7 linked regions of the Homo sapiens genome follow. The protein of the gene in region 1 interacts with the protein of each later gene in a pairwise test. Each region holds a gene or a part of one and is shown in the gene's direction. Other genes may lie near its edges.

Region 1 (3,500 bases):
CAGGCATGGGCCACCACGCCCAGCAGGGGATCTGCTTTTAAAGGGCTCACTCATAGGGCTGTTGGCAGGATGCCTCAGTGCCTCACCACATGGGCCTCTCAGTAGGGTTGCTTGTGTGTCCTTGTATCACGGCAACTGGCTTCCCCCACTTGGATCTTGCAAGTGAGCTGAGAGAACAAAGTAGAAACCATAACCTTTGGCCAGGCATGGTGGCTCACGCCTGTAGTCCCAGCACTTTTGGAGGCTGAGGCAGTTGGATCACCTGAAGTCAGGAGTTCAAGACCAGCCTGGCCAACATGGTAAAACCCCATCTCTACTAAAAAATACAAAAAAAAAAAAATTAGCCGGGTGTGGTGGTGGGCACCTGTAATCCTAGCTACTCAGGAGGCTGAGGCAGGAGAATCACTTGAACCAGAGAGGCAGAGGTTGCAGTGAGCCGAGATCACGCCACTGCACTCCAGCTTAGGCAACAAGAGTGAAACTCTGTCTCAACAACAACAACAAAAAAACGTGTAACCTTTTTTATGACCCAGCCTCAGAAGTTGTACACCATCATTTCTGCAATATACTAGTGCTTACACAGGTCAGCCTTACTCATTGTGGGAGAGGACTACATAAGGGTGTGAATACTAGGAAGTGGGGATCATTGAGGACATCTTGGAAACTAGCTTCCACAGAGTAAGGTCAGGATTTGCAGGAAAGAGGAATCTCAGGTTTGGGGTATGTTAAATTTGGGGTTCCTATTTTATACTCTGGTGATATTAAGAGGCAATTAGATGTACCAGTCTAGAATTTAGAGGAGTTATCAGCAGGTACAGGGTAGTTTAAACAACTGGACTAAGAAAACCTGGGGAGTCAATGTAGGTAGAGGATAGGTCTACGGCCTGTACCCTGGGTATCTCCAATATTTAAAAGTCAGGACAGGAAGGAAGATTGGGACGGATTAGCCATTGACGTAGAAGAACCAAGAGGTGTCCCAAAAGCCAAGTGGAGAGAGTTTCAAGAAGAGAGAGTGAGCAGTTGTATCAGAAGCTACTGATAGTCCAGTAAAATGAGGAGTGAGAATTGACCATTGAAATTAGCAACAAAGAGATTCCTGGAGACTTTGAAAGGAACAATTTTGATACTGTTGAGGATGAAAATCGGATCAAAGAGCAAAAAAGGAAGTGGAGACATTACCTATAGGTGACTTGGGAGTTTCACTGTAAGGGAGAGCTGAGAAATGGAGTGGGATCTGAAGGAGAAAGTGGTGAGATGGTGGGTTTGGTGGTGAGAGCAAGTGAAGTTCTGTTGCTTCTCTTTTCTTAGTGGAAATTGAAAGCAAGGACATTAGCTAAGTGAAGAAATAGGAGGGGGTTTTGGGAGCCTAAGGAGAGAGGAGAAGGTCTAAGTCACCTTAGAGAGTGGGAGAGTGAACTGATTAGAGAAATGAAGTGGAATTGCCAGGCAGTCCTAAAGGAGCTTCAGGAAAGAAGTAGGTACAGAGAGTTGAATGGAACCAGGGTGTGGGTTTTGCTGGATTTGTAAATGAAAGACGAGAGGAACAGGGAGTTGTGGTTATGTGCAAGAGAATAATTACAGTGGACCATGGGATTTCAGGAGGGAAGTGAGGACGTGATAGTGTCAGCAGTGTCAAAGAATTGGTGGATTTCGGGTACTAAATAGTGAACTTGGAAAATAAGGGTAAGTAGTTGAAGACTCAGACACTTGAAGTTGAATTTTGGAAGATTTGCAGTTATTGGCAGTGACAGGATCTAGGTATGAGTATGAAAATGGGTAGCTGAGGTGAGATGGCAAAATCAAAAGATTATCATGAGTCGGGAGGTCAGTATTCATTATTGAAATCACCAGTTATGATGGGGTGATTAGAGTGAGGCAAGGAGCCGGTGCAGAGGGAGAGGTGTGAGGAGAAGCACCATGGCAAGAGGTTAGTGGCATACACGTTGGAATTAGCTGAAATCTGTTTCCTCGGTTGCATTGGGCAAAGTCACTTCTCATCAGTGAGCCTCAACATCTTCTCAGTAAAACAGGGATAATTACCGCCACCCTCAAAGAGTCATTGTGGGGATGAAATGAGATGATGGTTGTGAAGTACAGTGATCTGTACACAGCTAATGTTCAGTATTTACTGTTGACTGTTTTCTTACTGTTTCTTTTATTAAAAGAATTGATATGTGTGTAGAAGTGCTTAATGCCTGACCCGTAGCATGTACTATATGAATATTAGTTATTATAACTTTTATTATCCCTAAGCAAAGGGCTTGTGCAGACTGGAGCCACCGATTTCACTGTGTCTGGCCCCAGCTGATGCCTCTGCTTCTCCCCTCCCCTTAGAGCTTGGGAAAGTCGAGGTGACGGTGTTTGACCCTGACTCCCTGGACCCTGATCGCTGTGAGAGCTGCTATGGTGCTGAGGCAGAAGATATCAAGTGAGCTGGCGGGGAGCGGGAGCAGGGTTCCCATCAGGCGCCATCTGTCAGTCAGCCTCAGCCTCAGTCAGACTGTGGCAGGTGGGGAGGTCAGACCAAGAATCTAGAGTGGGCGGGGTATGTGCCTCTGTCATTGATCCTGGTGCAAGCGACTGAGGCTTTGTAACCAGGCCCTATCTGGGAGCTGCAGACCTAGAGATGAAGCTGAAGTGGTCTCTGCTCTTCCACCTAGAGAAATGGTTCAGAGGTGGTCTCTGGAGTCCAGTTACCTGGGTTCTACCCGTTTCCTTGGGCCAAGCCATGTAACCTCTCTATGTGAAGAGGGATGATAATAACATCTTCTCGTAAGAGTCACATATGGATTAGCTGTATACTGTGTGTAAAGCACTGAGGTGGAAGGCCCAGCCCAGATTATTAGACCCTCAGTATCTGATAACTGCTGCTGTTTCCCAGACCCTGACTTCTGCAAGACTGATTCAGCAGGTCTGGAGTGGGGCCTGGGAATGTGTACTTAAATTTTTTTTTATTGTGGGAAAATATGTGACATAAAATTTACCATTTTAACTATTTTTAAGTGTGCAACTCAGTGGCATTAGGTATCTTCACAGTGTCATGCAGTCACCACTCTCTGTCCTAAAACTTGTCATCGCCTCAAACAGAATGGGAATATGTATTTTTCACAGTCCTAGTCTGGGCACAATGGCTTACACCTGTAATCCGTAGCACTTTGGGAGGCCGAGGTAGGTGAATCACTTGAGCTCAGGAGTTTGAGACCAGCCTGGGCAACATAGCAAGACCCTATCTCTAAAAAAATTTTAAAAATTAAAAAAAGAAAACAGTCCTTCTGCCACTGAGGAAACACATTTGGAGAATGTTTGGTGGTCAGGGATGAGGCTAGCAGAGCCTTCATTAGCAGGCAGAGCTGCTCGGGCTCTATTTCCCCAGATGCCAGCACTGGACTTATGCCTCTTTAACACTCTCACCGTCACTCCCTGCCCTACAGGTGCTGTAACACCTGTGAAGATGTGCGGGAGGCATATCGCCGTAGAGGCTGGGCCTTCAAGAACCCAGA
Region 2 (3,500 bases), on another chromosome or scaffold:
AAAGGTATGCACATTCAAAGTTCAATAACAGTGAACTCAGATTCTTTTCATTAATTAGTTCACATCATGTATTCATTGAGTGTGCCTTACAGTGTGTATGTGTTTGTAGGTTTATGGGGGGACATACAGTGTTGAGTCAAACAAACTTATTCTCTTCCCTTATAGTACTGTACAGAGTGCAATATTAGTGTTACATACAATCAGAGCTGTAAGAAATCAGTGAGAGTTTTGCTTCATAGGGAAAATGAAATTTCTATTGTGCCTTGAAAGAAGTTCCTATTCACACCTTGACTGTCCTTCAGTGATCAGTGCTGTTACCTCCTGTCACTGCTGCTGCATCTGCTCATTGAGCATATGGAGACTTCTAGTTTTGTTTGTTTTTAATAGATGAGGTCTTGCTGTGTTGCCCAGGCTGGTCTCAAATTCCTGGCCTCAAGTGATCCTGCCTCCCTCAGCTTCCCAAGTAGCTGGGATTATAGGTGCAAGCAACTGTGTGCAGCAGGCTCTGAGACTTCTAGTTTTGATATCATTCCTTTCCCCACATTCTCAAGTCACTGTTGAATCTGCTTTAATATCTGTCCAATCTAATCCCCATAATCCAGATCTTCAACCGCTCTTTTGGCAAGCAGTCTCAACCTCTTGGGGCTCCGTTTTTCTGCAACCTCAATATTATAAGCTTCCAACTATAGATTAGTCCAACCATCCACCTTCTCCTGGACTAACTCAGGCCGATGAACTCTTCTGCAGAAAAAAACCACACACCTGGGACGATTGAAGCCACCGTAGTATATTGCCTCAAACAAGTTTGTTTTATCTTTAGTAATCCTGTGCAGTCCCGGTCCCTTTCCTCCATCATTCTCCTTACTGTATATTCTGAATGATCACCCATTCTTCAGCAGATAGCCCGTTTTCTCCCTTTACTGAGAAAATTGATGGCAACAATTATGTTAAAAAAAAGTTCACGCCTGTAATCCCAGCACTTTGGGGGGCCGAGGCGGATGGATCATGAGGTCAGGAGATCGAGACCATCCTGGCTAACAGGGTGAAACCCTGTCTCTGCTAAAAAATACAAAAAAAAAAAAAATTAGCCAGGTGTGATGGCGGGCACCTGTAGTCCCAGCTGCTCGGGAGGCTGAGGCAGGAGAATGGCCTGAACCTGGGAGGCGGAGCTTGCAGTGAGCCGAGATCGCGCCACTGCACTCCAGCTTGGGCGACAGAGCGAGACTCCACCTCAAAAAAAAAAAAAAAGTATAGTTAACTAACACCCTGAACTATGCCGTTTCCTGTTAATCGCCCAACATATTTATATATGTATTCACTAAGGCCCACTCCATCTGTTGTTTGATAGCCTGATGACTATGAAGTACTATATTAGGCAGGGAGGTGTACATTCTTATCCCTTAGAGTTCCATAAAAGTAGCACCTAGAAAGAACAGTGGATCTGATACATGGTAATTCTTCAAATATATGTTGAAGAATAAATGAATCTCCCTCTTGACTCTCAGCTAGCATTCTGCATAAGTTATTGTGTCTCTTTCCTAGAGCTTCAGTTTGCCCCCTCCCTGCTTTGGCTCTTTCCTGTCCAACTGTCTATTTAAGAGAAAGAGATGCCAGTAAAGAACCCTCGCCGCTATGAGCTCCCGTCCTTCTGTATTAACCACTTTTCCCTTCCTCTTCACAGCCACGCTTTTTCAATGGGTAGATGATGTTACTGCTTTTAGAACTTTCATTAAAATATATGTTTCTCTTGAGCAGGGAATGTATCCTGAATATTCTTGTGTATTAGTACCTATTTTTGTATCTTCTGGACAATCAATAAGCAATCCAGAAATGTGTATCAAAATGAACTGAACTGAATATTCTTTGGTTAACAGAGAGTAATGGAAAGAATTGGTCTGATCTCTGTTTGGTTATTTATTTTTTAAATTCATTTGGAGTATGAATATTAGAGACATATGTGGTTTGCAAGGCCCTCCAGGGGTCTTTTTCAGTTCTTTCCTAACTAACAGTGTTTCAAAAGTGGCTTCTCTAGAACCACCTTTGTGACTCTGATCCTTGCAGGTGAAGGAGTACCTCCTGGCAACTATGGGAACTATGGCTATGCTAATAGTGGGTATAGTGCCTGTGAAGAAGAAAATGAGAGGCTCACTGAAAGTCTGAGAAGCAAAGTAACTGCTATAAAATCTGTAAGTATATAACAAATATTATATGTGTTTTAATTCATATATTTCTATACATATAATTATAAACTATATATTCTTATTGACGTCATCCTAAGGAATTCATTTACTCAGATACTGTGGTTTTGTGAGGTCAAAGTACACTCAAAATTTAGACTGTGCTTTGAGTAAGTTAAAAAATGTGGCACATCAAAAGATAGATTTTTTTTAATACTTAAGAAAAATCTCCAGCTCTTTTTTGTATACTGTATGCTGTCTGCTGTAATGTCTCAAACAGAGCTGTCCATCTTCCACCCCCAAGTAGCTCTTCTGCTTTTTTTAATCTAGCCTTCTAAGCTATAAATCTTGGTCTTTCTTATTTCTACCTTTGTACTTCATTTCAGTCACTGAGTCTTACACTGTCTTTCTGATGTTTCTATCTTTGCCTTTCTATTTCTAATACTATCCCCTGGTTTTCTTTTCTTTTCTTTTTTTTTGAGATGGAGTTTTGCTCTTGTTGCCCAGGCTGGAGTGCAATGGTGCAGTTTTGGCTCACTGCAACCTCTGCCTCCTAGGTTAAAGCAATCCCCCTGTCTCAGCCTCCCAAATAGCTGCGATTGCAGGTGCCCGCCACCACACCCGGCTAATTTTTGTATTTTTAGCAGAGACAGGGTTTTACCATGTTGGCCAGGCTGGTCTTGAACTCTTTATCTCAGGTGATCCGCCCGCCTTGGCCTCCCAAAGTGCTGGGATTATAGGTGTGAGCCACCGCACCTGGCCTATCCCCTGGTTTTCTTAGTTGAACTATTGGAAGAACATCTTAACCTATCTGTTCCTGTTTTTTTGCACATTATGATCTGAGCTATATAATCATTGCCACAGTCCTCGTTTAGAATATTTTAAAACTTGCATCCTGCACTCCCAGAAGTCTTCAGCGTCCTTCCATGATTTAATAAAGTTCATGCTTCGTAGCTTGATTAAATCAGATAGATCTTTCAAAAATTGGCCTTAGCTTTTGAGATCTTATCTCTCACACTTCCAGAATCTGTATGTGCTTCCTGCTAGACAAATTACACTTTGTGTCCTCTGTATGCTGTCACTTTCCCACCCCCATATCACACTATCCCTTTGCCTTAAGCCTCCACTTCCTTCTTAGATCAACTGAAGTGCTGCTTATCCACATCCGCCCCACTTCATTGCACCCCCTCCCTCCAAACTTTTACCTGATTACCACATCCAAAAGTAACTTTTCTTCTTATGAACATAAGACCATTTGTGCCATTTCTGTAGCACTTATTCATAGTGATTTGCATTGGCATTATTTGTATGTAAAAGGAATTT
Region 3 (2,858 bases), on another chromosome or scaffold:
CGGAGTTTCACTCACGTTGCCCAGGCTGGAGTGCAATGGCGTGATCTCGGCTCACCGCAACCTCTGCCTCCCGGGTTCAAGCAATTCTCCTGCCTCAGCTTCCCAAGTAGCTGGGATTACAGGTGCGCGCCACCACGCCCGGCTAATTTTGTATTTTTTAGTAGAGATGGGGTTTCTCCATGTTGGTCAGGCTCGTCTCGAACTCCTGACCACAATTGATCTGCCCGCCTTGGCCTCCCAAAGCGCTGGGATTATAGGCATGAGCCACCACACCCGGCCCCCAGGCTTCCTCTTTTCTTGCTGCTCAGACAGACATATAAGGAGTCAGGCCGCCTTCCAGATGTGTAGCCTTGGGCAAGTTATTTGATGCGCCTGTGCCTCATTTCCTCACCTGTAAGATGGGGATGATGACAGTACCCACTTTGTAGGGGTTCAGTGACTAACGCGTACAGCAGTGCGTGGGGTGTAGTAAGCACGTAGCGCTATGTATTGTCATCAGCATCCTCATCTCACCCGAGTTCCCCTGTGGAAAACCCTCCTGTCTTAAAAATCAGGGCCTTGGGCCTTGCCCCTTCCCCTGAACCAAAATGTGCCCTCTTCAGTACTGTGTCCCCTACCAAGGTCCTGACTACTCTCATTGGTGGCTTGTGAGGTTTCCATGCAGCCCAGCACTTCTGCCAGACTGGGGGGCTTCCCGAGGGCAGGGTGGGGTTGTCCTCCCTGGACCCTCCACCATACTGCCAGGGCGCTGCTCCACATGCGACCCTCTAGAGGCCTTCAGTGTTGGATGTCGGTGGAAGGGGAAAGAGGAATGGGAGGAGGTGTTGTGGGTCAGCGGCCACCCCGAAGCTGAGCTGGTGGAGGGTGGAGGCCAGAGCCAACCCCAGAGGTCTTGCCCTTGTGTACCGGGCTTTGTCCTAGCTCCCAAGAAAGTCACCTTTGTTTTCTGGAATGCGCTGCATTCGGCACGGTGGTCAGTGAAGGCCTCTGGGCCTCCTGGTTTGCAGGGACCCACCCCCACCCCACTCAGCTTGCTCCCCATTTATTGCCTCCCCCAGGGCCAGGATCCTCTTCCTGCTCCAGTTGCTGGCCGACCACGTCCCTGGCGTTGGCCTGGTCACAAGTAAGCAGGGATGGGGACGCGATGACTGTAGTGCTGGAAGGCGCATGCATGCAAGCACCTCCCTGACTCCTCTGTCTCCTTGCAATTTGATTCTTGGCACAGTCAGGAGAGGAAGTCGGGAAGTCAGGATTGGGTGGGACTGCCCCTGGGCATAGGCCAGGGTGGCCTGAGGAGCCAGGGATGGCTGGAAGGAGGGTGTCCACTGGTGGGGGGACCACATCAGCTGCCAGCTTTTTTCTGGTCACAGTATCCTGGAGCGATACGGGACCATCTCATCTTGGGGGGATTCAATGGCAGAGAAGGGGTCCACCGGGCTGCTGAGATCCTCCCTCAGCAGAGGCCCACTGGGCTTGGGTTGGGTGACTGGACCTGACTCAGGCCCCTCAGTGTCTACCCTGGCTGAGCTTCTCTGGGCCTGAGGGTCTTTGTAAATGGTGCCAGAGTCCCCTGCAGTGCTGCCTCCTGGGGGCAGGGCAAGACAGCCAGCTGGGCTGGCTCCTGGGCCGCAGGGGTGAGGTGCTGTATGTGGCGCCACAGTGCAGATTGGGGTCTGGCCTGCCCTGATGTGTCCCTCTCCCACTGCAGGGCCGCTCATGGATTACTTGCCCACCTGGCAGAAAATCTACTTCTACAGTTGGGGCTGACAGACCTCCCGGAAGGAGGGTGTGGGGAGGGGTGGGGCAGGGAGCCCCTCTTCCCTAATAAAACTGACTCCGGCAGCGTCCCAGCGTGCGGCCTCTCCGTGCCTACCGGCCAGGCCCCACACACAGCCCTGGTCGCCACCAGCGTTCCTCCCAGGACACCCTTGACTGCGCTCTCCTGTGACGATGCCACTGCAGCCCGCACCTTGTCACTGCTGGGCCAAGAAGCCTTCACTAGGAGTGGGATCCAGGCTCCTCTCCCACAGAAAGCGGTGACTTCACCTCATGGAGCCCGGGAAGCTGCTCGCCTCGGCAGCCATAGGAGCGAACACTGCTGCTCTCTCGCTGGCCCCTGGTGAGGACAGGAAGCCTGAACCCGGGTGATGGCTGAACGCTGCCCAGCGTGTCTTCTGGCTGGGGCCCTCCGTCTGCCCCTTCTCCGCAGGGCCCTGTGGCTCTGGCAGCCCCAGGCCATGGCGTTGCCAGCCTCCCTGTGACAGAGCCTGGTGAACAGTGAGCCTGGCTCCCACGCAAGTGGCACTTTAAGCCCTGCATCCTCGGTTGAGAGTAAAAGGCTTTTCTCCCTTAGAAAAAGGACATCGGGCACTGGCCAGCACTGGGGAGGGAGTGGGAGCTGGACAGGCTCGGGGAGGAAGCCGGGGCCAGTTCAGGGGGTATGAGCTGGGGTTTCCCCATGCTTGCCCTGCAGGCTCCAGAGGCCGGGTCCACCTGGAGCCATGCAAGCTGCTATGGGGGAGGGCCTGGACAGGGTGGGCCGCAGGCTGGTCGTCTTCTCCCTGAACTTAGCCTGTCCTCAGCCACTGGCCCTGTGAAGAGCCAGCCTCTCATGCTAGAGTTTCAAACCCACAGAGAGGGCTCCATCTACACCTTGGTCCTCCATGCCTCAGCTCCTCCAAGACACACTGCTTTCCCCAGGGCCCTCTGAGGAGCGCCCCCCAGGTCCTCACCCACAGGCAGGGGAAGGGGCTGCCTGGGCTCCCATGGCCTCCAGCTTAGTGGAACAGGCGTTTCTGGGCACATGCCTGGCCATCAGAAACCAGCAGTGAAGCACAGTCCCCTGCCCTCCGCCTCTC
Region 4 (3,500 bases), on another chromosome or scaffold:
GCCATCCTGTAAAGGGGTCATTTACCCCTGAGCTGCTGGCTAACTCATTGGACAGAGCAGTCAGACCTTGCAATGCCTTTGTTATACTTCCATTAGGGGCAGTGTTGTTTGGGATGAAGGCACAACATTCAGTTTTAATCATGATGCAAACTCCTCCTCTTTCTGCTAATATCATGTCTAAGGCTATCCTATTTTCCCAAGCCATCTGGCAGTTAGTCCCTAATTGCTCAGCTATTCCTTTAACAGCATCTCTAGTGTAGTTCATAAATTGCTGTTGGTTATAATAGATGTAGTTTATCCAATCTATGTTTTTATTAATTGTGACCCACCAAAATATTGACTCAAATCCTGCAGCTATTTGATTTCGGGCTTTAAATTGATCTGGTATTCCCCGTGGGACTCCAATTGCATCTAAATAGACATGAGAGTTGAATGACCTATAAGGAGCTTCTCTCACTTTATGATGTCTTATTTTTCCTTCCTCTGGTTGATGAAATGCCAGAGTAAAAGGGATAGCCAATTGAACTAGAGCATAACTACTGCTCTAATTATTTGGCAGAGTGTCCAGTAAAGGTCCTCCATAATACCACCATACATCCGCTCAGGGATGAATAAGGGCAGATTGACGGGTCACCTCTTGGAAGTGCCTAACTTCACTGCATCCTGTTAAGTCTCCAAGAAATGCCAAATTTTTCCCCGTGTCGTTAGAGACACGAGGTAAAATTGGTTTTGGAAGATGGAGGCTGGATGGCCCTTGGGGGCTGACCTGCAGGGTGTTGGACTTCAGGAAATAGCAGAGAAAGAGCTTAGCACAATTTGTTATTCCAGGCAGTAGAATCTTGAAAAAGCTACCATGCACTCCATGTCCACTTGATTTGAGGACCATCCCAGTGGAAAGGTAACAACCTGGGCCTCTAGCCTACCGTGCACACAAGTGTAACAGTTACTTTTGTTTAAAGTGTGAATGGAATATTTAATACATTTTAACCAGGCATTTACATCTTTATACCCTGTCAATAGCTATGGTTTGCCTTAGGTCTCCTATTTCTACTACTGAGACCTTGCTTTTGTCATTTGGCATGAGGCGAGGCATAGTTTTATTTCGTAGGTTTGTGAAAGGGGCAGTTGTAGGAGGTAGAGCAGGGAGAACAAAGCGCATCTTAAAGAAGCCTATAGGGTCCTTTCCAGTGACTTCTGCTCCTAAACCATAGAAACGCTCTAAAGTGGGGTTAGAGTTGCTAGTGGTAGGAACAGTAATGGATATAGGCACTGTGTTAGGAAAGGAAGGAAAAGATAGATAGACTAAGCTTTTCTTAGCTTTAATTTGGTAAGGCTTGATCCAGGAACAATGGTCCATGATTCTGATGGTAATGGTGCTTGCTTGACTCGGGTGTGATGTGTCCATCCCCCTTCTGTGGTACAAACCATAGTCTTGGTGGTTAGCAGCACAAGGTAGGGTCCTTCTCAGGCTGGCTTGAGTTTTCCTTCTTTCTACCCTTTGATGAGGGTGTGATCCCCAGGCTAGTGCCCGTTTACCAGAAATTCTAGGGGTGGTACCTGTGCTAAAAGACTTGTAGTTTTGAGGGAAAGGAAAGTGGAAGATAAACCAAGTATATAATTTATGAGAAACTGATCTTTTGTTTTAAATTTGGGGACACCAGGCTGGGCGCGGTGGCTCATGCCTGTAATCCCAGCACTTTGGGAGGCCGAGGCGGGTGGATCACCTGAGGTCAGGAGTTTCAAGACCAGCCTGGCCAACATGGAGAAACCTTGTCTCTACTAAAAAATACAAAATTAGCCAGGCTTGGTGGCACATGCCTGTAATCCCAGCTACTTGGGAGGCTGAGGCAGGAGAATCGCTTGAACCTGGGAGGCGGAGGTTGTGGTGAGCCGAGATCGCGCCATTGCACTCTAGCCTGGGCAACAAGAGCGAAACTCTGACTCAAAAAAAAAAAAAAAAATTGGGGGACACCAGCAGTGGACTTTATAGTCCTTAGTGCCTTCTTCCTGAGAAACTTCCTTTAGAAACTTCCTGAGAAACCTATTTTTATTAGTTTTTAGACCAAAGAAAGCCAAACACCATTTTATATTTGACAGTGCTTCCTGTATGATTATACCAGATAAGCTAAATTTCACCTTTATATTAGTGTATTATTAATATTAAACTCAATTTTAATAAAACCCTGTAGACATATTTATCCGATTTTAATGTCTGACCATAAGGTAAGATTTCCATAGACTCTTTTTAACCTTTTATAAAATTTGTTAAAGAGCAGTTTAGTGTTTTTTAGTGTTTTAAGAAAAACCCATTGTGCTTTTATTTTAATGTCCAGTTCACAGAAAAACTGGATGATACCCCTTTAACTTTAGCCAATATGGTTACACACAGAATTTCCTTTACAATTAACATTTTAAAACTTGCTTAAACGCTCAAAACAAAATTTTTTTTAACCTTTTAATGTAGGTAAAAATCCACATTCTATGCCTCCTTATTATCCTTTTACCAAAAGTATATTTTACTTTCATTATACACCTTGCACATAAACTGTTTCTTCAATAGTTTTACATTCAGGAGGCCTAATTACTTTTAAATTATACAACATTTCTTGCATAAGTTCCCTTTTATAGCATTTTTCATGACTTTCGCAATCTTCGACAGGCCTCAATTTTCTGACTTCCTGTAAACATCGCTTTCTTTAAATAACCAGTTAATTTATTTTAGGATAATAATTTACCATATAACATTCTTTTTATATAAATTCTCCCCCCCCTCCTTTTTTTTCCCCCAAGATGATAACCATTCTTTTCCAAAGCAAACTTCCTTCAGGTCTGTGGACTAGACTGCCTAAGGCCACAAGATTAGAAGTTAGGATAATACATATTACACTGCTAACTTTTGGCAAACTTTACCTTTGTGGAAAACCTTGTAAGTTTGGTATTTCAATTATCCTTTGCTATTAATAAGACTTTCTTTAGTTTAAATTAACTTAGAATTGGTATAGACCACTCCTTCCTGATTCTGTAAGTACTTTAAGGCTTAGCTGAGTGCAAACAGCTTACCAACTATTAGGCAATTTTCCTAACTCTACTTCTATAAGAGTTTCCCTATCACTTACTGAATACCCGTTGTGGCTTTTTCCCTCAGTCACACGGGAGGAACCATCTATCGTCCTGTCCTGAAGGGAGTTCCTTCTAGGTCTGGTCGGACCTTTATATGGTAATTAATTAAGATTTAGATCCCCTGTGAGGAAACCTGCTGGGTTAAGGGAATTATCAGTGGTTAATGTTAAATCATCTTTTTCTAACAGAATAGCCCCATACTTTAAGATTTTTGAGTTAGTAAGTTACCTTTTTGTCTTAGGATACTTCTGAACTGGGTGAGGTGTGCTCACAATGAGGTTTCCTCTAAAAGTTATTTTTCTACTTTCTTCTGTTAGCAAAGCAGTTGCCGGTACAGATTGAATGCATTTGGGTCATCTGCGGGTTACTGGGTTAAGGAT
Region 5 (2,543 bases), on another chromosome or scaffold:
TCCACCCAGTGTCCACTGGCCTGTCCTTCAGGGAGCAGAGCAGAGCAGGTGGTGGACGGGCCCAGTGCTGGGTGTTTTCACCACCATCCCCCCATCCCCCATCTAAGAATCCTAAGAGGCAGGCGATCCCTCACCTGCTTACTCACTCAGCAGTTACCCGGCCCCTGTGCTGGAGATACCAAGGGCATGGGTGGTCCCTGCTTCGATGGCCCCAAAGCTGGGCCAGAGTTAAGGGAAAGAGGAGGAAGTCCTAAGCAGAGAAGTAGCACCATTATCCCCATTTAACAGAAGGGAAACTGAGGCTCGGCAAGCATAGGCGAGTTGGCAGTGGAACACGGATCTAAACTCAGGTGTGTCCAAGTCCTCCCAAAGGACAGCAGTGATGGAGAGGACCCCAGCCAGCTGTGTGACAGCTGGTTGTTGCTGACTTCATTTTCCAATCCGGAGAAGGGGCTCTGTCCACAGTCCCCCGCCGCCAGGTGGCCCACATGGGACCAGCATGGGGGCAGGTTATCTGTTGGCCTGAAGAGTGAAACCTGTACCAGGCCAAAGGTGAGGGCGTGAGTGAGGGCAGGAGTGTTTATGGCAGAGTGAAGTTCTGTGCCCACCACAAGAGGCTGTGAGATGTTCTGACCCTCACCCACTGTCCACCAAAAGCCTCTCCTGCTGATGGGCACTAGGAGACCTCAGGGTACTGCCCATCTGTTTCTCCTCGGGTGCCAGCCAGCTGCTGGTGATCCTCAGCCGGAGGGCAGGGTACCAGGTAAGCTTAACTCCATCTTGGGTGTTTGTGACAGGCCCTGCCTGCCACCCTAGGCAGGGAAAGCTGTCAAGACTCCTGCCAGGAATGGGGGGTGCTGAGTCATCTCACGAAGAATCCCTCACTCTTCCCGGGTTCAGCCCAGAAGCCCTTCCAGGCATGATCTTCCCCATCAGGCTGGGCTCTGGCAGGGACCTGCCCAGGATGGAGATGAGAGAGGGTGAGAGATGGAGGGCGAGATTTGGATGGGACCCAGGGCTCCTGACTCTGCCCTGGAAGGTTCATGGGGAAACTCGCTCCTTCTGTTGGCAGAGGACAGCCCCTGGGGAACCCCAGGCCCAACTCTGTCCGGTATCCCTTTTCCTCCCAGCTGCCCTCCCCTACTTCTCCCTTGCTCCCAAAGCTTTCCTTGGAGAAGGGCCCTCCTGCAGCTGGACCCTGCAGGGTGGCTCCCTCCTCCCCATCAAGCACAAGAGAGGGCCCAGGAAAAAAGGTTTCACATAAGTGTAGAGTCGCAAGGACGCTTAGAGTCGGCAGAGTCTGGGGTAGGGAGACAGCGACTTGTCCAAGGTCAAGCACAGAGGGAGAGGTTCAGGAGTCAGGTCTTCTGCCTTCTGAGTTGGCTCATCCTGGGCAGTCACAGACTGTCCTGCCTGCACGGCTCCTATCCACCTGGGGGTGTCGCAGTTGAGGGGCTAATTCCCAGGGGACTGACGTTAGTTCCCTACTCCATCCTTCCCTGGTGATTCTTGATCTTCAAAGCCTCGGGGATCCCAGGTTTCCCCATGTAACTGAGACACCCTGCCTGTTAGCCCTGGGAGACCCCTAACCTTGGCCCAAGACCCCTTTGATTCTCTAAGGAGCACGAAAGGGGGAATGCCCCTCCCAGGAGTTTATGGGAGAAGGGACTGGGCCGGCTGCCTCCCAGCGATGCACTTGACCTGACACTCCCCATGTCCTGGTGCGCACAGCCCTTGTCGGTGCCCCGGCCCCTCCCGCAGCGTTACTGCCTGTGTATAGTATAAATATATATATTTTCTATATATAAGATGTATAATATAAGGCTCCACAAATATATCTGTGTGTGTGTGTGCGTGTGTGTGCGGTGAAGGGCGGTCCCCATCCTGGGCCCCCACTCTAGACCCCCCCACCACCTGGTTAAGTCTCGAGTGAATCCAGTGGCCCCGTGGCACCCTCCTTTATGACATCCATCCATCTGTGGTGAACCAAGTGAAGGTGGTGACTTCTGGTGACATAGTAATAAAGTGAAGACTCAGAACCCACCAGCGATTGCAAGTGTGTCACCGTGTTTCTTTGTTCTTCATTCTGCGTTTGGCTTGGATGCTCCATCCCGTTTGTCTCCTTAGACAGGCCATGTCTTACTTGGTTATTATTGTTTGTTAATTTTTCATTACACAATGAACCTATGAATATATTATCTTTTTAAAAAGTAAAATTGGCCGACTGCAGTGGCTCATGCCTGTAATCCCAACACTTTGGGAGGCCAAGGTGGGTGGATCACCTGAGGTTAGGAGTTCGAGACCAGCCTGACCGACATGGTGAAAACCTGTCTCTACTAAAAATACAAAAAAAAAAAAAAATTAGCCGGGTGTGGTGGCAGACGCCTGTAATCCCAGCTACTCGGGAGGCTGAGACAGGAGAATCACTTGAACCGGGGAGGCAGAGGTTGCAGTGAGCCAAGATTGTGCCATTGCACTCCAGCCTTGGCATCAAGAGCAAAAATCCATCTAAAAAAAAAAAGGAAAATTATTACAGTTGAAGC
Region 6 (3,500 bases), on another chromosome or scaffold:
AATTTACAAGTGCTGTTTCAAGAGATATGGATACAGGAGTACACAATGACAACCATAGGGCAGTTTGTCCCTAGATATGTGAAAGGCAAAGAATCTTAACTATAATATCCATTAGCATGATTAACTTGCATGTTTATTATCTTCACTTCAGTCTCCTCACCCAATGAGTCAGTACTCATTTTCTAAATTTTTCATTACTAACACTCTCCTGTGGTTTCTAGATAGCCATTAGGTAGAGGAAAACCTGGAGAGCATGATATCCTGGAAGCCAAGTGAAGAAATTGTTAGAAGAAATGAGGAAGGATCAACTATATTATATTTTGTTGTTTTGTCAAATAAAATGAGGACTACGAATTGACCATTGGATTTAGCAATATGGAAGTCAGTAGTAAATTTTACAAGTAGTTTCAGTGGAATTGTGAAGCAAAAACCTGGTAGGAGTTGATTTAAGAAAAAAATAGGAAGAGAGGAATTACAGACAGCAAACAGGAGCTTCTTTAAGGACTTTACTGTAATGTGGTATAAAGAAATGGGGTGATAGCTGGGGAAACTTGGCTCAAGAGAGGGTTTGCTTATTAGTTTCTGTGAGTTGAAAGAAACAGCATCATATCCTTTGTTGAGAGGACTGAACCAAAAGAAAGAAAATTGATGATATGAGTAAATGGGGGTGGGTATTGGGATCAAGTATTTGTGTAGGCAAGAGGTGATGGATTTTGATGCACAAATAGCTAGGAGCATAGAAAGTTTATCTAGGGCATGGTTCTCAGCTAGAGGCAATTTTGCCCCTGATAACATTTTATAATATCTGGAGATATTTTGGATTTTCACCGCTGGAGATGTACATCAGATGGGCAGGGGCAAAAGATGCTGCTAAATAGCCTGTGATCCACAGGACAGCACCTCACAACAAAGAATTATCCAGTCTAATTATAAATGGTTTCAAAGTACAAAAACAGAAGGGAAAGGCAGAGAAAGGAGAGTTTTCTTTGATAGGATGTTGGAAGCCTGTGGAAGTTTTTTTTTTTTTCCAGTAGCTTCAAATAGCTCAATGAATTAGGAAGCAAGATTATGAGCTGAGATTGAGTATGGGGAAGTGGTTTGGTTGTTTGAGGAAAGGCAAGAGAATATGAAATAATCATCGAGGAAAAGTGAGAGTGCACAGATTATGGAGAGGTGGTTTTATTTTCACACAGCATTAAGGACATACTTGAGGTTTAGGAACAGGATATGAATATGGGTTGTATGCCTTCCTCAGGCCATGTTCAGCTGCATGAGTGCAACCATGCAGTAGGATAAAAACAATCAGGATCTTTGTTTAGCTGTGCAACTATAATAAAACAAGAAAGGTGCAAAGCAATTGCAAGTGGATATAGGGCAGTGTTTGTAATGGTTGGCCATGAAATTTAAGTTAGTGATGGAAAGAAGAATTTAACAGAGAGTTGAAGTTCTCAGATTATAGACCCAGGTGGGGTCAAAGGGTTGTTAGAATTTTAATACTAGAGGGCATGAGCTAGAAAGATAGCAGGTGATGATCAGGTGGAATACTTGAAATTAAGATTTGAAAGGTACAACAAGGACAAGAGAATGATTATGGGAGTGAGTGACTAAGATAGTTTGGAGTCAGGGATTGGAGGAGAGAACAAGAACCACAAGCCCAAGGTATAGAAAGATGATATGGTTTGGCTGTGTGTCCCCACCCAAATCTCATCTTATAGCTCCCATAATTCCCAAGTATTGTGGGAGGGACCTGGTGGAAGATAACTGAATCATGAGGCTGGGGGGGTGGCGAGTCATTCCCATGCTGTTCTCATGATAGTGAATAAGTCTCACAAGATCTAATGGTTTTAAGAAATGGGAGTTTTTCTGCCCCTGGCCCCTCCTAAATTTCATGTCTTCACATTTCAAAACCAATCATGCCTTCCCAACTGTCCCCCAAAGTCTTAACTCATTTCAGCATTAACTCAAAAGTCCACAGTCCAAAGTCTCATCTGAGACAAGGCAAGGTCCTCTCCACCTATGAGCCTGTAAAATCAATAGCAAGTTAGTTACTTCCTAGATACAATGGGGGTACAGGCTTGAGTAAATACAGCTGTTCCAAATGCGAGAAATTGGTTGAAACAAAGGCTACAGGCCCCATGCAAGTCTAAAATCCAGTGGGGCAGTCAAATCTTAAAGCTCAAAAATGATCTCCTTTGACTCCATGTCTCACATCCAGGTTATGCTGATGCAAGAGGTGGGCTCCCATGGCCTTGGGCTGCTCTACCCCTGTGGCTTCACATGGTGTAGCCCTGATCTGGCTGTTTTCACAGGCTGGCGTTGTCTGCAGCTTTTCCAGGCACACGGTGCAAGCTGTCAGAGGATCTACCATTCTGGGGTCTGGAGGATGGTGGCCTTCTTCTCACAGCTCCACCAGGCAGTGCCTCAGTAGGGACTCTGTGTGGCAGCTCCGACCCCACATTTCCCTTCTGCCCTGCCCTAGCAGAGGTTCTCCATGAGGGCCCCGCCCCTGCAGCAAACTTCCGCTGGGCATCCAGGCAGTTCCATATATCCTCTGAAATCTAGGCAGAGGTTCCAAAACCTTAATTCTTGACTTCTGTGTACCCGCAGGCTCAACACCACATGGAAACTGTCAAGGCTTGGGGCTCGCACCCTCTGAGGCCATGGCCCAAGCTCTACATTGGCCCCTTTCAGCCACAGATGAAGCAGCTGGGATTCAGGGCACCAAGTCCCTAGGCTGCACATAGTACAGGGGCCCTGGGCCCGGCCCATGAAACCACTTTTTCCTCCTAGGCTTCAGGGCCTGTGATGGGAGGGGCTGCCATGAAGATCTCAGACATGCCCTGGAGACATTTTCCCCATTGTCTTGAGAATTAACATTCAGCTCCTCATTTCTTATGCAAATTTCTGCAGCTGGCTTAAATTTCTCCTCAGAAAATGGGTTTTTCTTTTCTATCACATTGTCAGGCTGTAAATTTTTTTGAACTTTTATGCTGTGCTTGCCTTATAAAACTGAATGCCTTTAACAGCATCCAAGTCACCTCTTGAAAGGTTTGCTGCTTAGATCATTTCTTCTGCCAGATATCTTAAATCATCTCTCTCAAGTTCAAAGTTCCACAAATCTCTAGGGAAAAATGCCACCAGTCTCTTTGCTAAAACATAACAAGAGTCACCTTGCTCTAATTCCCAACAAATTCCTCATCTTCCATCTGAGACCACCTCAGCCTTGATTTCATTTTTCATATCATTATTGGCATTTTGGTCAAAGCCATCTGACAAGTCTCTAGGGAGTTCCAAACTTTCCCACATTTTCCTGTCTTCTTCTAAGTCCTCCAAACTGTCCTAACATCTGCCTGTTACCCAGTTCCAAAGTCACTTCCAAATTTTTGGGTATCTTTTCAGCAGCACCCCACTCCTGGTGCCAATTTATTGTAATAGTCCATTTTTATGCTGCTAATAAAGACATACCTGAGACTGGGCAATTTACAAAAGATAGAGGTTTG
Region 7 (3,500 bases), on another chromosome or scaffold:
AGCATGGCACCGTTTACAACTCTGCTTGGTGCTCTATGGCCAGAAAACCTCTGTGTTTCTTGTTTGTTTTTGTTTTTTGAGACAGAGTCTTGCTCCGTCACCCAGGCTGGAGAATGCAGTGGCGTGATCTCGGCTCTCTGCAACCTCCGGCTCCTGGGTTCAAGTGATTCTCTTGCCTCAGCCTCTAAAGTAGCTGAGATTACAGGCACCTGCCACCATGCCTGGCTAATTTTTGTATTTTTAGTAGAGACAGGGTTTTGCCAAGTTGGCCAGGCTGCTCTTGAACTCCTGACCTCAAATGATCCACCCACCTCAACCTCCTAAAGTGCTTGAATTACAGGCGTGAGCCACCGCACCTGGCCAAAATCTCTGTGTTTTACTTTCCAGAGGAAAATAACCTGCATTTGTTTGGGGTTTAGACTTTCAGTCAGCTCTATTTGAGCACCTCCCCAACCCCTGCCACCCCCGCCCCCCAACACACACACACTCTCTCTCTCTCTCTCTTTCACTCACTTACTCACACATACACTCTTTCTCTTACTTGCATATAAATCTAATATAGCTAACTCATGAGCCTTTCAGGGATTCCGAGTAGTAAATTTTATTAGTTCTTGGCTTTCCCTATAATCAACCAAGGTTTTAGTTTTCTCAGATCTACCAAGTCTTTTACCAATTGTTTACTTTCTGCTTTCCGTAATTTTATTTTATTGCTATTATGTGCCCTTTAATCTTTCTAGCTTGAATTATGACTTTTACAGTGTGTGTGTATGTTTGGGTGTGTGTGTGTTTATTGTCATTTTAGTGGGTTCAGGGAAGGATTCAAACTACATGTGTTTAATCTGCTCTCTTTACCCAGAAGTATCACATAATTTTATACATTTGAAACACAAGAAATGTTTCTTTGAATTTTGAGCTCAGGAATTAAATTAATTTAGAAAATAGATTTGAGGGCAAATTATTTTTTCTTTTCAGATGATGAAATGGAATTGGAGCCGCTGAGCTGGATAGGTGAAGGCACTAATGATGAAGGAAAAATAGGTATAGAACATTAAAGAAAGTCATGTATAGCTAAGCAGCAAAAGATTGGATTTTGCTTAACCTTCACATTTTCTAGGAGGAAAAAAATGTTTTTCTTTCACTATTAAGAAAAACCTGATTTGGAAACTAAATAGAGGTGGTGGCCATATACATTGTGAATATAGTAAATTACCGCTGAATTGTTCACTTTCAAAATGGTTAATTTTGTGTTATGTGAATTTCACTTCAGTTAAATTTTTTTTAACCTAAAAAACCGACATGAACATTTTCAAAGCTTACAGCTACATTGACATCTGGCTTTTGGGGATAACAGATAAATTGACTCCTTACACAGGTCTCCTTAAGTTGTGTTCCATTGTCTACCTAGGAGCTTTGTAGAGATTAAAAAATGCTTACAAGTATAATTTTAGAAGGTTTTTCAGAATGTTATTCATTTTGGGAAAACAAAGAGCAAGATCTATTCCAAGGGGTAGCAAGTGAAACTGATATTTTTCTCTAGTAAAGAAAGTGAAAGGAGGCAGGGTGCAGTGGTTCACGCCTGTAATCCCAGCACTTTGGGAGGCTGAGGCAAGAGGATCACTTGAGCCCAGGAGTTGGAGAACGGCCTGGGCAACATGGCAAAAACCCCATCTCTACAAAAATTAGTTGGGCATGGTGGCACACGTCTGTAGTCCTAGCTACTTAGGAGACTGAGGTGGAAGGATTGCTTGAGACTGGGAGGTTGAGGCTGCAGTGCCATAATTACACCACTGCACTCCAGCCTGGGTGACAGAGTAAGACCCTGTCTCTCAAAAAAAAAAAAAGAAAAAAAAGAAAAGAAGGTGAAAGGAATTAACACATATTTAATGTATATACTTCCTACCATCAGAATCTGTTCATTGGAACAACATAATTCTTGATGCACACAAGACCTTTTGACACTTTAATCATTCAATCTTTAATAGAAGAAAGGGAAATTCTGATGGGATGCTGGCACAGTTCCTATAAATTTATATAAATGTATATTGCTAATATCGTATATGAAAAACATTTATTTATTTTATTTTATTTATTTATTTTTTTGAGACGGAGTCTCGCTCTGTTGCCAGGCTGGAGTGCAGTGGCGCAATCTCAGCTCACTGCAACCTCCGCCTCCTGGGTTCGAGCAATTTGCCTGCCTCAGCTTCCCAAGTAGCTGGGACTACATGCGTGCCACCAGGCCCAGCTAATTCTTGTACTTTTAGTAGAAACGGGGTTTCACCATGTTGGCCAGGATGGTCTCAATCTCCTGAACTCATGATCCGCCCCCCTCAGCCTCCCAAAGTGCTGGGATTACAGGTGTGAGCCACCGCGCCCGGCCAAAACACTGTTTTTCAAAAAAGTTTACTGGCATCTTATCTAAAATGTGTTATTTTTCAGTTTAGTGTGTCTTAGAGCAGGGTTCCCCAACCCCTGGACCATGGACCGCTACCACTCTGTGGCCTGTTAGGAATTGGGCTGCACAGCAAGAGCGGGCCAGCAAGCATTATCACATGAGCTCTTCCTCCTGTCAGATCAGCAGAGGTATTAGATTTGCATAGGAGCATGAACGCTATTGTGAACTGTGCATGCGAGGGATGTAGGTTGTGTGCTCCTTATGAGAACCTAAGAATTACCCTGATGATCTGAAGTGGAGCAGTTCATCCCAAAACCAACCCCCCTCTCCATCTGAGGAAAAATTATCTTCCATGAAACCAGTCCCTGGTGCCAAAATGGTTGGGGACTACCATCGTAGAGAGCATGTGTCCTGAAGCCATAATGTCAGGGTTCAAATCCTGGCACTGCCTCTTATTAGTTAAACCTGCCATGCCTCATTCTTCTCATCTGTAAAATGGACAAGATAATAGGGCTATTGTGATGAATATGAATGAATACATGTAAAGATCTTTTAATCTTATCTGATACAGAGTGCTAAATAAGTATTATCTGCTCTTTTTTCTTGCCATTTTCTTAAACTGCTATCTATAAAGCACATCTGGAGGACTGTACATAATATATGCAATGTGAAGACTCCTTCATTACCAGGGTATCTTTGTCATGGCTCCAGTGAGCACTATAGTTGCAACAATGCCATCGGCTTCCTCTTTCTCATTACATTTGTGGTTGTGGTTAAGTGCAACCTATTTTTCCTTAGAAACAGAATGGTTTTGCTACCTTTATTTTCTAAAGAATCCTAGACTTCATAATGTAGTGGATTTGTTTGAACAGTAAAATCAAGAAACTATAAACAGTGTTTATTTTCAACTCTCTGTGTTTGGTTTAGACATAATCCCTATTATTTGTACATTTTCCCTGGGAATCAATGAAAAGACTGGGAATGAATCTGAGCTGTAAACCTGCCATTGGAAGATGTAATTAGTCAGTCAGTGGCCATAAAGAGTATTCGATTTTTTTAAAAGCTATTTTTCCTTACCGGTATTGTGTGGCTGCAAGTGATAAATGAT

The links.
Region 2: the proteins of ERGIC3 (region 1) and BET1 interact in binary tests that used the Homo sapiens proteins (3 or more experiments, as listed by UniProt).
Region 3: the proteins of ERGIC3 (region 1) and PEX16 interact in binary tests that used the Homo sapiens proteins (3 or more experiments, as listed by UniProt).
Region 4: the proteins of ERGIC3 (region 1) and SLC35A1 interact in binary tests that used the Homo sapiens proteins (3 or more experiments, as listed by UniProt).
Region 5: the proteins of ERGIC3 (region 1) and SYNGR1 interact in binary tests that used the Homo sapiens proteins (3 or more experiments, as listed by UniProt).
Region 6: the proteins of ERGIC3 (region 1) and MS4A13 interact in binary tests that used the Homo sapiens proteins (3 or more experiments, as listed by UniProt).
Region 7: the proteins of ERGIC3 (region 1) and MFSD6 interact in binary tests that used the Homo sapiens proteins (3 or more experiments, as listed by UniProt).

Annotation. Positions count from the first base shown.
Region 1 is NC_000020.11:35,545,078-35,548,577, forward strand, and holds part of ERGIC3 (endoplasmic reticulum-Golgi intermediate compartment protein 3), read left to right. Parts: intron 1-2,334; coding exon 2,335-2,428; intron 2,429-3,431; coding exon 3,432-3,500. UniProt on the Homo sapiens protein: Possible role in transport between endoplasmic reticulum and Golgi. Positively regulates trafficking of the secretory proteins SERPINA1/alpha1-antitrypsin and HP/haptoglobin.
Region 2 is NC_000007.14:93,997,856-94,001,355, reverse strand, and holds part of BET1 (BET1 homolog), read left to right. Parts: intron 1-2,061; coding exon 2,062-2,186; intron 2,187-3,500. UniProt on the Homo sapiens protein: Required for vesicular transport from the ER to the Golgi complex. Functions as a SNARE involved in the docking process of ER-derived vesicles with the cis-Golgi membrane.
Region 3 is NC_000011.10:45,909,163-45,912,020, reverse strand, and holds the end of PEX16 (peroxisomal biogenesis factor 16), read left to right. Parts: intron 1-1,058; coding exon 1,059-1,123; intron 1,124-1,708; coding exon 1,709-1,767; 3' UTR 1,768-1,843; coding exon of another isoform or gene 1,844-1,932; 3' UTR 1,933-2,358; downstream 2,359-2,858. UniProt on the Homo sapiens protein: Required for peroxisome membrane biogenesis. May play a role in early stages of peroxisome assembly. Can recruit other peroxisomal proteins, such as PEX3 and PMP34, to de novo peroxisomes derived from the endoplasmic reticulum (ER).
Region 4 is NC_000006.12:87,479,474-87,482,973, forward strand, and holds part of SLC35A1 (CMP-sialic acid transporter), read left to right. Parts: intron 1-3,500. UniProt on the Homo sapiens protein: Transports CMP-sialic acid from the cytosol into the Golgi apparatus, functioning as an antiporter that exchanges CMP-sialic acid for CMP. Binds both CMP-sialic acid and free CMP, but has higher affinity for free CMP.
Region 5 is NC_000022.11:39,383,533-39,386,075, forward strand, and holds the end of SYNGR1 (synaptogyrin-1), read left to right. Parts: 3' UTR 1-2,043; downstream 2,044-2,543. UniProt on the Homo sapiens protein: May play a role in regulated exocytosis. Modulates the localization of synaptophysin/SYP into synaptic-like microvesicles and may therefore play a role in synaptic-like microvesicle formation and/or maturation.
Region 6 is NC_000011.10:60,518,392-60,521,891, forward strand, and holds part of MS4A13 (membrane-spanning 4-domains subfamily A member 13), read left to right. Parts: intron 1-3,500. UniProt on the Homo sapiens protein: May be involved in signal transduction as a component of a multimeric receptor complex.
Region 7 is NC_000002.12:190,432,355-190,435,854, forward strand, and holds part of MFSD6 (major facilitator superfamily domain-containing protein 6), read left to right. Parts: intron 1-972; exon of another isoform or gene 973-1,038; intron 1,039-3,500.